Linked DNA regions of Homo sapiens. The protein of the gene in region 1 purifies or fractionates together with the protein of each later gene. This does not show direct contact. Each region holds a gene or a part of one and is shown on either strand. Other genes may lie near its edges.

Region 1 (7,070 bases):
AGGAAAACACAGAACTCAGTTGCACCAGGCTCTACAGGCAGTAAGAAAATCAGAAGTATCCGTAGGGAAGGGCAAGAGTGCACTATTTTTCCTGCTTCTGATTTTAAGAAGGGGAACACGAGCAGGACGGCTGGTTTTCTCCCTGGCCTTGAACTGGGGGAGGAGGTCTAATCACGGTATACCCCTCTCCACTCCCCACAATTCTTAAAAGAGCTGACAGGATGGTGGGCCCCTCCAATCTCTCCCTTTTCTCCCAGATCTAAGGCTTTGGAGCTAACAGCCCCAAGTTCAAATCCCAGATCCACCAGCTCATGCACTGCATGGCCAGAGCAAAGGGCTTCTACTCAGTGGAGCTCCCCTCTCCTTTGATTTAAAATGAAGATTAAAACTCCCTCTCTCAGGTGACAAGGGAATCGATGTCTGCACCCCAAAGTGTGTATACAGTGGTAGATGCTCCTTGCGTGCCAGTTCACGCACACCCCCACTCCTGGGACCCCATAAGCCCTCCTCCCTTCTCTTGGAATGCAAAGAGAGCCGGACCACATGCCACCCACCTCCTCACGGTGGGGCCTGTGGCAGAGGGCTGAGCATGGACTGGACACTTGATGAATGCTTGATGAATGCACACTGAAGCGGAGGAAGGTGCATGGGGATGGTCGAACCCTCAGTAGAACCCAGGTCCTGGAGCCTTGAAGTTCACAGAGCTTAAAGAGTGCAGGTTTGCTGGGCACACATGGCTCATCCTCCAAGGTGCAAACGTGAAGCACTGAATCCATTCTCACCATTCCGCAGTGAGCCCAAGCCCTGAGAGTATTTCCTAGTTAAGCTGGGCCCCCTGACACCTGGGCACTCAGGGACCTGAAGTATGCCAAGGGAGCCCCAGACTAGCCAGCTTCTCAGAGCTGAGCATTTCTCTCTTTAAATATCAATGCCTGACACAGGGCCCTTCCAAGGCCAAAGGCTAGAGCTGGCCTTACCCATTTTCCTTACTTCCCTTACCTGCCCCCACAAGCCACCAATTCAAGGAGCACAAGGTTGGGAGCCATGTGTGACCTGAGACCTAAGTCTACCCTTCCCATTTAGCACCCATAAAGTCCAAGATAAGGCCCTCATCCCTGGAGCCTCATTTCCTCCTTGGTAAGACGGAAGGGTGAGGTGCAGGGAGAAAGGATTAAAAGATCAAAAACAGCAATTTCCCCAGCAAGCTCAAAATCACCGGAACCTACTGAATCACACAGGGGCAGGGGGCGGCGGTGGCACGAATCCCTATGGTTGGCCTGGGTAAGGGGAGGCTTTGTGGAACCAGAAATTGATGTGCCGACCACAGCTCTTATGGCCCAGACTTAACTGATGCTATTAGGACTGACCTTGAATTCCACCAGAGGGGCTGTCCTTGTTCAAAACTGCCTAGGTCTGCTAGCCTCAGGGCTGCCCGGCAGGGGCAAGAAGCCGGCAAACATTTGCTAGCTGGTATCAGGGACCCGGACAGGCTGGAAAACCATGTCAACCAATCAAGAGGTCCAAGACCAGTGTCCTCTTTGGGCCTAAACCCCAATATATCCCATGCTATGGGGGTCATGGCAGGCTAAGGGCCTTTCTCTCTGGGTAGACTGTCACTTTACACTGCCTTCACATGCAAGAAGAGGGGAAGAAATACCTCCTGTGGCACAGGCATCTGAATCACTATTTTGTGGATGTGGAAAACCCCTCCTGGAGAACACCCCCCATCCACTAATGCCCTATTTCTGAGCTCTAAATCATGCCAGACTCTGCTAAGGGTGTTTCACGCACTCAGTCGTCACAAGCGGAGACCTTATTTTTAGCCCCAATTTGCAGGTGGTGAAACTGAGGGCGCTCGGAGACTTGCTGAGGTCAGCCAGCCGAGCGGCGACAGGGAGTTCTGAACCCAGAGCCTTTGCCCCTAACTTCTAGAATATACCGAGCTGTTCAGTAGAAAGGGCAGAGCCAGGATTCTAATCCAGCTCCTCCCTGCATTAAAGCCCTGCTCTTTTCCCAGCCAGACACCAAGTGTGGCTGCCTCAGGCCAGGACATCCCCTGGGGCTCCACACCTCAAGGGAACCTCTGGTGGAGATCTCTTCCCCCGCAGGCTTCCAGAATGCCCCATGCAACCTAGACCATGAGGCAGCTGGACCCCACAAAGGACCCATTGTGGTGACTGCAGAAAGCCAAGGCCAGACCCCGGTGGCCCTTCTGCAGAGTCCTGCCCAAGGCGCCTCCTCCCCTTCCCATGGTGCCCCCATACCCAGCGGACAGGGCTGGGGCTGAGGGAGGGAGGGGCGGGGGCAGGCCTCCCGATCTGCCCGGCCTGGGGGAGCCTCAGGCTATAGAAACTTAAAACCCTCCAGCTGCCGGCAGGCTGCATGGGGCCCCAGGCCCCTCCGGACTCATTCCAGGTGCCCTGCCCCACCTGTCAGCTGAGGTGGGGTCCACCAAGGAGGCTCAGTAGAGGGAGGAGAGGGATGCTGGGGTGTTATGGGCTGTTCCCATCTGGGAGGAGGGAGGAAATGTTTCCTAGTGTGGGGGAGGGGAATGCAAGGTATCCGGGCAGGCTGGGGAGGGGGCTCGGCGGAGGGAAGGTGGGTGGATTTGTCTCCCGCTGCACGAGGGGGCCTCCGCGGCTCTGGCTGGCTTCGTGTGCGGCAGGGGGGGGGCTCGCCTGGGGTCCCTAGGGGCCTGCGGAGGCATGCACAGGGCGGGGAGCCGCTTTTGCATGCAGGGCGGGAGGGGTCCGCGGCGTGCCGGGGCGCTCCCTCTGCCCGCTGAGGGAACTCCCGACTGGCCGGGGTCGCCACACTCACCTCCTGAAGTCAAAGGGCATCGTGCCGCCGCCGGGGGTGGGAGCGCTGCAGGCCAGGCGGGCCGCGGCGCCGCGTGGGTCCGAGCCCGCTGCCAACGCCTCCTCCGGCCGCCCCGCCCCCGCCGGCCGCCCCCCTGACACTCGCCACTCGCCACTCGCCACTCGCCTCCCGCTGCCGGGAAGTGACGCTCCGCGCAGCCCATTGGGCGCCGCCCGCCCGGCCGCCCCTTCCGCCACCCGGTTAAAGGGGCCCGCGGGCAGGCAGGGAAGGGGCGGAGAGTCGAGGCTGTCGGAAGGGAAGGGAGTCCCCCAAAGACTCCAGTACTCATTCCTTCAAGCCTCCCACTTAGATTTCCTTCTCCATCTCTTTGGATGCCCTCGGACAAATTCTCTGCTTCTCCGAGCCCAGTTTTTTGCATTTGTAAACAGTTTCACTGAACTGTGATTGAGTTGGGGGCGGGGGGCGGGGTGATACAGACTTTGGCCGTGCACAGCGTCTAGCTCTGAGTGAGGGCCTAATACTGTGGGGGAAGGGAAGAGGTCGGCCATCCTAGGCTGTTAAGGTGGACTCACCTCTGCCCCTGCCGTGTCTCTCTGGGAAAGCCACTGGGCTTCTCAGAGCGCCCCCCCCCCGCCCCGCCCCTTTTGCATATCTGCACAAAGAGGACGATGACACCTACTTGAGGGGGTTTTCCTGGGGATCAGCTGAGAAACAGGAGACTGGCTTAGCACAGTGCCAGGCACCTGAAACTATTGAGGCTGGCAGTGGCTGTCCCTGCTTCCATCTGCCCCTGTCGTTCACTCCAGTGGGCATTCACAGAGCATCTGCTCTGAACCAGGTCCATCGAGAACATGCAGGGTTGTGGCAGAGGCAGATGGGACCTGCACTGTGACTTGGCCAACGTGGACTGTGCCGATTGTCTCCTTCTTAGAGCCTCAGTTTCCTCCTCAGGAATACAGAGCAGCTGCCTCCGTGACTGCTGGATTAGAGGAGATGGTAGTTGAGGTCACACAAGACCTGAGTAGGGGAAACTCACTCTGAACTTCCCCGAGGTTCTGTCACTGGCCCTTTCTCCAAGGTTGTGGTGGGACAGGGCTTCAAAAAACCCAGGGGAGAATGGTGAGGGCTCGGGTTCCAAAAGCAGAGTCAATGGACAGTTTCCCCCTGTGTAAATAGAGGGGAACAGCAGTGCTGGTTCCTCCGGGAGGATTCAGAAGGGACAACACTAGCACGGGGTCTGGGGTAGGGTGACGTGGTGAACCAAAGCCTTCCCCTAGAGCATATGCCGGGACCTGACCTCTGCGTTCCCTTTTCATTCATTCACTCATTCATTCATTCATTCATTCAGTGTCAGTGGTCTGACACTGTTGGGGGAGAAAAGGAAATCTCAGCCTGAACTGGAAACCTAGGGACAGCAGGGAGAGTTAAGGGATCTTGAGCAGCCACTGCTTCCAAACAGCCATTCGTTGGCCCTGTGTGGGAGGAAACATGCAATGATGGATCTTTGACCTCGAATCCTCCCTCCTCAAACTGTGGTCCACAGACCAGCCACATGGCCATCACAGGACAGACTCTTGTCCCCAGGCCAGACCTACTGAATCAAGTGTGCATTTGGGATGATATCCAAGGTCAGCAAATGCCTGGCACAGAGTAAATGCAAGACAGGGTTGACTATCATTGCTCTTTTCGAGTGGGGATAGAGCTCCCAACTTTTGGCTGGGCATGTGGGTGCTCACAGTGAAAGTTGCATTTCCCCAGCTTCCTTTGTAGCTAGATGTGGCATTGAGAAGTAAAGGGAAGTGTCTTGTGGGGCATCTGGGATAGTTGGTATGTCTGCTTTACCCTCTGTGTCCCTTTCTCCATCTGGCTGCCAGGAATGTAGGCGTCACCATCCTGGACCATAAGGTGGAGGCCACCACAGAGCAGAGCAACAAGACAAAAAGAGCCTAAGTTCCTGCCGGGCACAGTGGCTCACACCTGTAATTGCAGCACTTTGGGAGGCCGAGGTGGGCGGATCACCTGAGGTCAGGAGTTCGAGACCAGCCTGACCAACATGTGGTGAAACCCTGTCTCTACTAAAAATACAAAAATTAGCCGGGCGTGGTGCCACACGCCTGTAATCCCAGCTACTCAGGAGGCTGAGGCAGGAGAATCGCCTGAACCTGGGAGGCAGAGGTTGCAGTGAGCCCAGATCACACCACTGCCCTCCAGCCTGTGCGACAGAGTGAGACTCTGTCTCAAAAAAAAAAAAAAAAAACCTGAGTTCCTGTCTCTAAGTGGCAAAATACCTGTCCTCAAACACCTGCCCAAGAGAAACAAACATCTATCTTATTTAAGCTATTGTTATTCTGTATTTTCAGACACTTACACCTAAACCCAATGCTGATACACCTATGCAGCCTGGCTAGCTACTTGACTGCCCCAATGCTCATGGACTAGGCCAGTCCCCTATTACATAATCGCATGGTACCTTGTAGGTTTCCTTGGGAGAACTGGGCATGACGTGTGATTAGGTTATTATTAATTCGCTAGTAACTACTACCCCATCTGAGTGAAAGTTCCCTGAGAGGGGCCTGTCGGGGGGTAGGGGGCTAGGGGAGGGATAGCATTAGGAGAAATACCTAATGTAGATGACGGGTTGATGGGTACACAAACAATGATGCCATACACAAATGGCACGTGTATGCCTGTGTGACAAAACTGCACGTTCTGCACATGTATCCCAGAACCTAAAGTATAATTTAAAAAAAAAAAGGAAAGTTCCCTGAGACAAGGTGGTATCACCATCATATCCTAGCATCCAGCCAGACCCTGCACATGCTGGGGATGCACTAACTATGCGTTGAAGTTTGAATAGAGGCTTCCCAGGGAGGCAGGCCTTCCCACGGAGGCAGGCCTTACCAACAGAACAGCGGATGGGAGGGGAGGTATCAACATGGGCCTCCGCTGTGGGACTGGTGAGGTCTGTGAGCAGACCAGGCTGTCAGTCCCAGATGGTCCATCCACTCAAGAGCCAGTGGGAGATGGAGCTAAGAAAATCAGATTGTGTCTGCAGTACGTGGGAAGGCTCTGGGTCTCTTTGAGCAGGGAACAACAATACAAGTTAAGTTTTCGGATTATCAATCTTGTGGAAGCCTGTGGTAGGTAGCCAGCCTCCAGTGACCCTGATCTCCTGGTATTCCCATGCCCTTCTAGAATCACCTCCCACAATGAATAGGGCTGACCTATCCTGTGTAATCAACAGGATATTGCAGAAACGACAGTTATGACTCCTGTGGCTACGTCACAAAAGACTGAGGCTCTGCTTAGCCACTCTTGAATCACTCGTTCTGAGGGAAGCCAACTGCCTGTCCTAAAGAGGCTCAAGCACGATTATAAAGGGGCCTGGTCGGTGAGGAATGAGGCCTCCCACCAACAGCCATGTGAGTGGGCTCTCTTGGAAGTAGCGGCTCAGCCCCGGTCAGGGCTTCAAAGCTGCATCCCCAGCCCACAGCTTAACCACAGGTTCTTGAGAGACCCTGAGAAACACCCAGCTCAGCTGCTCCCGAATTCCTGATCCATAGAAACTATAAGATAATAAATGTTTGCTTTAAGCCATTAAGTTGTGGGTAATTAGTTACACAGCAGTAGATAAATAACAGAGACTCCATCCTCATTATTTTTTTTTCCTACCAGTAACTTCTCCCTGCCTTCCTCCATCTCACCCCCCGCCAGCCTGGGGAAATAGAAAACCACTTTGGACTCAGATCACTCTCTGCTGGGTGACCTGGACCAGTTGCTTAACTAGCTGGGTGTCTAGGTATGAAATGAAGGATAATAATACCTTACCTGTGGCAGGTAGCCTCTGAAATTGTCCCAATTAACCCACCTCTTGGTATTCATACCCTTGTGTAATTTCCTCCCTTCAAGTGTAGGCTGGACTTATGGACTCATTTCTAATGCACAAAATATGGCAGAAGTGATGAGCATGTTGCTTCTGAGATTAGGTTATCAAGAGATGGTGACTTCTGTCTTGGACACTCTCTTGCTATCTCTTGGATCAGTCACCCTGGATAAGCTGGCTTCTGTGTGTGGCTTCTGTGCCCTAAGGAAAAGCCCCTGTGGGTGAGTTTGCAAGTGATTCTTCTAAGGCAGGGGTGTCCAATCTTTTAGCTTCCCTGGGCCACGCTGGAAGAAGAAAAACTGTCTTAGGGGCCGGGCGTGGTGGCTTACGCCTGTAATCCCAGCACTTTGGGAGGCAGAGGCAGGTG
Region 2 (3,709 bases), on another chromosome or scaffold:
ACATTGAGATAGCAGCTTACAGGTACTGCAAAGGACCTGCTTACCCGAGTAAATCCAGTCACCTAGGGGCAATGCTGCCCAAATAAGTGGATCTAGTCTCTCTGGCTTCTGACTGGTGAGGGAGGGAAGAAGGGCATCACTGGCCCCTTTCAGGTGAGCTGACTGCTCTGTCCCTCTACTTAGATATAATCCAGCTCCATCTGACTAGTCCCAGAGTATTCTGTGTACCTCTGAAAGGATTTAAGGGGATAATGTGAGTACACAGAGGTTAAAATAAAAACCCATGAGACTCGTAACTTTAAAAATAGGGTTTGGGGCCAAGTGCAGTAGCTCACTCCTATAATCCCAGCACTTTGGGAGGCCAAGGTGGGTGGATCACTTGAGATCAGGAGTTCAAGACCAGCCTGGCCAACATGGTGAAACCCAGTCTCTACTAAAAACACAAAAATTGGCCAGGCGTGGTGGCACACACCTGCAGTCCCAGCTACTCTGGAGGCTGAGGCAAGAGAATCGCTTGAACCTGGGAGGTGGAGGTTGCAGTGAGCTGTGATCATGTCACTGCACTCCAGCCTGGGAGACAGTGAGACTCTGTCTAAAAAAAAAAAAAAAAAAAAAGGATAATTAAAAACTATTAAGAGTTATGAGAAACATGGTTTGGGGCCACTCTTTTATAAGACTGTTTTCGTCACGCTGATAAAAATCTGTTATCTGAAACAGTGTCATTCACTGGTTTTTGTTATTGCTGGTTCTATTCCCTTTGTACCCGTATACACTGAAAAAGTACAAATCTCAAATCCAGGTTGAGTAAGACAGTTTCTACCACCTTTGTGGACATCTCACCTCCTTATCCCTATTGCAGCTAAGGTGTTACTTAGGAAAAGTACTTCTCCCTAGAGCTTTGTTGCTAATTGCCAAAAATGGGTGTGATGTGGCCAAGTGGAGTTGCAGGTTTTCCTCCTGGAATATATTTGTGAACAGGATAGGTTTTCCTTTGACAATGCTTTAAACATAGCTGGTGCTGAAGGGGGGTGTGTGTGTGCGCATGCGTATGCACGTGGTCCAACCCTTTGAGCTTTGAAATTAAATATTTATTGGTTTCAATCTCATGAAGAAACTCCAAAGTCCTTTGGAATCTCTCTCAAATGAATCAGGATTGGAGGGTTGAGTTCTGGGGGGGAAAAGTTATTGACTTCCTAAGAGTTTTTCTCTGTTGAATTTACAGGAAACTGCTGGAAGGCGAGGAGACACGTTTTAGCACCAGTGGGTTAAGCATTTCGGGGCTGAATCCACTTCCCAATCCAAGTTACCTGCTCCCACCTAGAATCCTCAGTGCTACAACCTCCAAAGTCTCATCCACTGGGCTATCACTTAAGAAAGAGGAGGAGGAGGAGGAGGCATCTAAGGTAGCCTCTAAGAAAACCTCCCAGATAGGGGAAAGTTTTGAAGAAATATTAGAGGAGACAGTAATATCTACTAAGAAAACCGAGAAATCAAATATAGAAGAAACCACCATTTCAAGCCAAAAAATATAATTCCATTGCTTTGAAAAAGTTAATGCTTAAGAGGGAATGATATGCATTTGACTTGTTAAACAGCCTATTCCTGAACTATAACACCTGCCACCACTATAAAATGTCTTCAAGGCTTCAGTCTCATATTTAGTATTGAATACTTACATTCTCTAATAAGAAAACCACCCCTTAGATTGAAGTAAACTGCAGTCCTGGAGCAATCACAGATGAGTTATCTAAGAATACAGCTTTCTGACCTTCAGCTCACGCTTCACAGTGATCGATGATTCAGGTGCAGAGGAAGTACAAACTAAGGTGCTAAATCTGCGATCATCGTCATTTGCTGTGAACTGAAATTAAAACTATTCATGCTACCCAGCCATTACCCAGCTAAATAATCTTACTCTAGATACCTAAAACATAAGATCACTGCCAGAGATAAACTAATGGTCCACACCCAATTCCACTCTGATAGAATTATTTCACAAATAATAGGTGTTTGTTTAATGGACACTTTTCACCTCCTTCAATTCCATATATCCTTTTCTTCTATGTAGGAAAAAAATAGTCTAGTGTAGTATTCTTCCCTTTTAAACACATTTTGGTTCTTCTCAAAAGAACTTACCCCCATTCGCGCTCTGCTCAGTGGGTAAAATTAGATGCATGTTGACCATGTCTATGATTCGTGTAATTACTTATCCCTGCCCATTTCATATTCTTTCAATTCTGTAGGTTAAAAAAATGGCAGTGATGAATTTTAAGGGTTTCCCCCAACATATAAAATAATGCAAAGAATCCCTAGACTTTAGGCTTTCAGCTTACACAAATCTATTTAATTAGGAAAAAAACTATTAAGGATGTAGCTTTTCACCTTTACTTTAGAAGCACAGTAAATATCCCAAACTGTGATGAAGCCGACCTTAGATTTAGTAGTGTAAGCTAGAAGAAGTGAGTGTTTCTATGAGTGGAAAAAGCCAAGGTGTCATTTATGTGTCAGTTCATTTGTGGTGATATAGAATTAGCTTTTTCATCCCCTTACCCTTAGAATCCACGTATTCCCCTTCCCACTAGCCTAGGTCATAAAGAGGCGTTGCTTTCACTCTCCTATGCCTTTTACGAGTGCTAAGTGTAGGATATTTTGTCACCAGAACACAATGCTACCGCCCCAAAGTAAAAGAAACCACTTCTGGTCAATCAACACTACCAGCGTATATATAAGAAAGACATCTTTCTCTTTTCTAAAAGACTTCCCTAACACTTACCCCATGGCTGCACAGTTGGTGGGGTCCTGCCGGAGAGGAAGAGACACTCAGACCAGAGAAGGGGTGTGCATGCGCCTACTCGCTTGCTAGAAGTAGATTCTGGACAGTCAGCTCTTCATCTGCCCAACTGTGTAGCATCTGCATTGCCCAGTCTTTCATGTGTGCCAAGGCTGATGCAGGATTTGTTCTCTGTCCAGCAGTCACTTCGGCCAGAGCTGAAGAGTTGCCCCGTCTCTGTTCCATGTCTCCTTTAAGAGCTCTGGTGATAAGGACATGATGCTTTTACTGAACTTTCTTATCCTAGCACATGCTTCAATAGTTCAAGGAACTTGAAAAATACTTTTCCTTACCTTTACCCCATCCCTGTCTTTACTCCTCACACTTACTGTAAGACATTAGTAACATAATAAATTAAAAGTCACACGAATCTCACCAACATAATTCGTGTTCTGTGGTTCCTGCCCTTTCACTGAGAGAAGCACTGTTTGGGTTCAGAGTCAGTCTGGCTCTGACTGATTTGTATCTTCTCTTTTTAGTGAGCCACCTTAATTGCCATGAACTTATTTATAGAAGAAAGATATTGGCCAAGCGTGGTGGCTCATGCCTGGAATCCCAACACTTTGGGAGGCCAAGGTGGGGGTGGTGGGGCAGATGGCCTGATCCCAGGAGTTCGAGACCAGCCTGGGCAACATAGGGAGACCTCATCTCTCAAAAAAATACAAAAATTAGCCAACTGTGGTGGCTCCTGTAGTCCCAGCTACTGGGGAGCTGAGGTGGGAGGATCACTTCAGCCCGGGAGGTGGATGCTGCAGTGAGTTGAGATCACGCCACTGCACTCCAGCTTGGGCAACAGAGTGAGACCCTATCTCAAAAAAAAGAAGAGTAACTTACAGAGTTGAAAAATGATTAATTCAGAATAATAGATAACATGGAAAA

What was found. The genes of interacting proteins can lie anywhere in the genome.
Region 2: the proteins of ERGIC1 (region 1) and INA purify together in Homo sapiens (affinity purification with mass spectrometry; 3 studies listed by BioGRID and IntAct, with this or other methods). This does not show direct contact.

The regions. Positions count from the first base shown.
Region 1 is NC_000005.10:172,830,184-172,837,253, reverse strand, and holds the start of ERGIC1 (endoplasmic reticulum-Golgi intermediate compartment protein 1), read right to left. Parts: upstream 3,004-7,070; 5' UTR 2,841-3,003; coding exon 2,821-2,840; intron 1-2,820. UniProt on the Homo sapiens protein: Possible role in transport between endoplasmic reticulum and Golgi.
Region 2 is NC_000010.11:103,287,138-103,290,846, forward strand, and holds the end of INA (alpha-internexin), read left to right. Parts: coding exon 1-22; intron 23-1,222; coding exon 1,223-1,532; 3' UTR 1,533-3,209; downstream 3,210-3,709. UniProt on the Homo sapiens protein: Class-IV neuronal intermediate filament that is able to self-assemble. It is involved in the morphogenesis of neurons.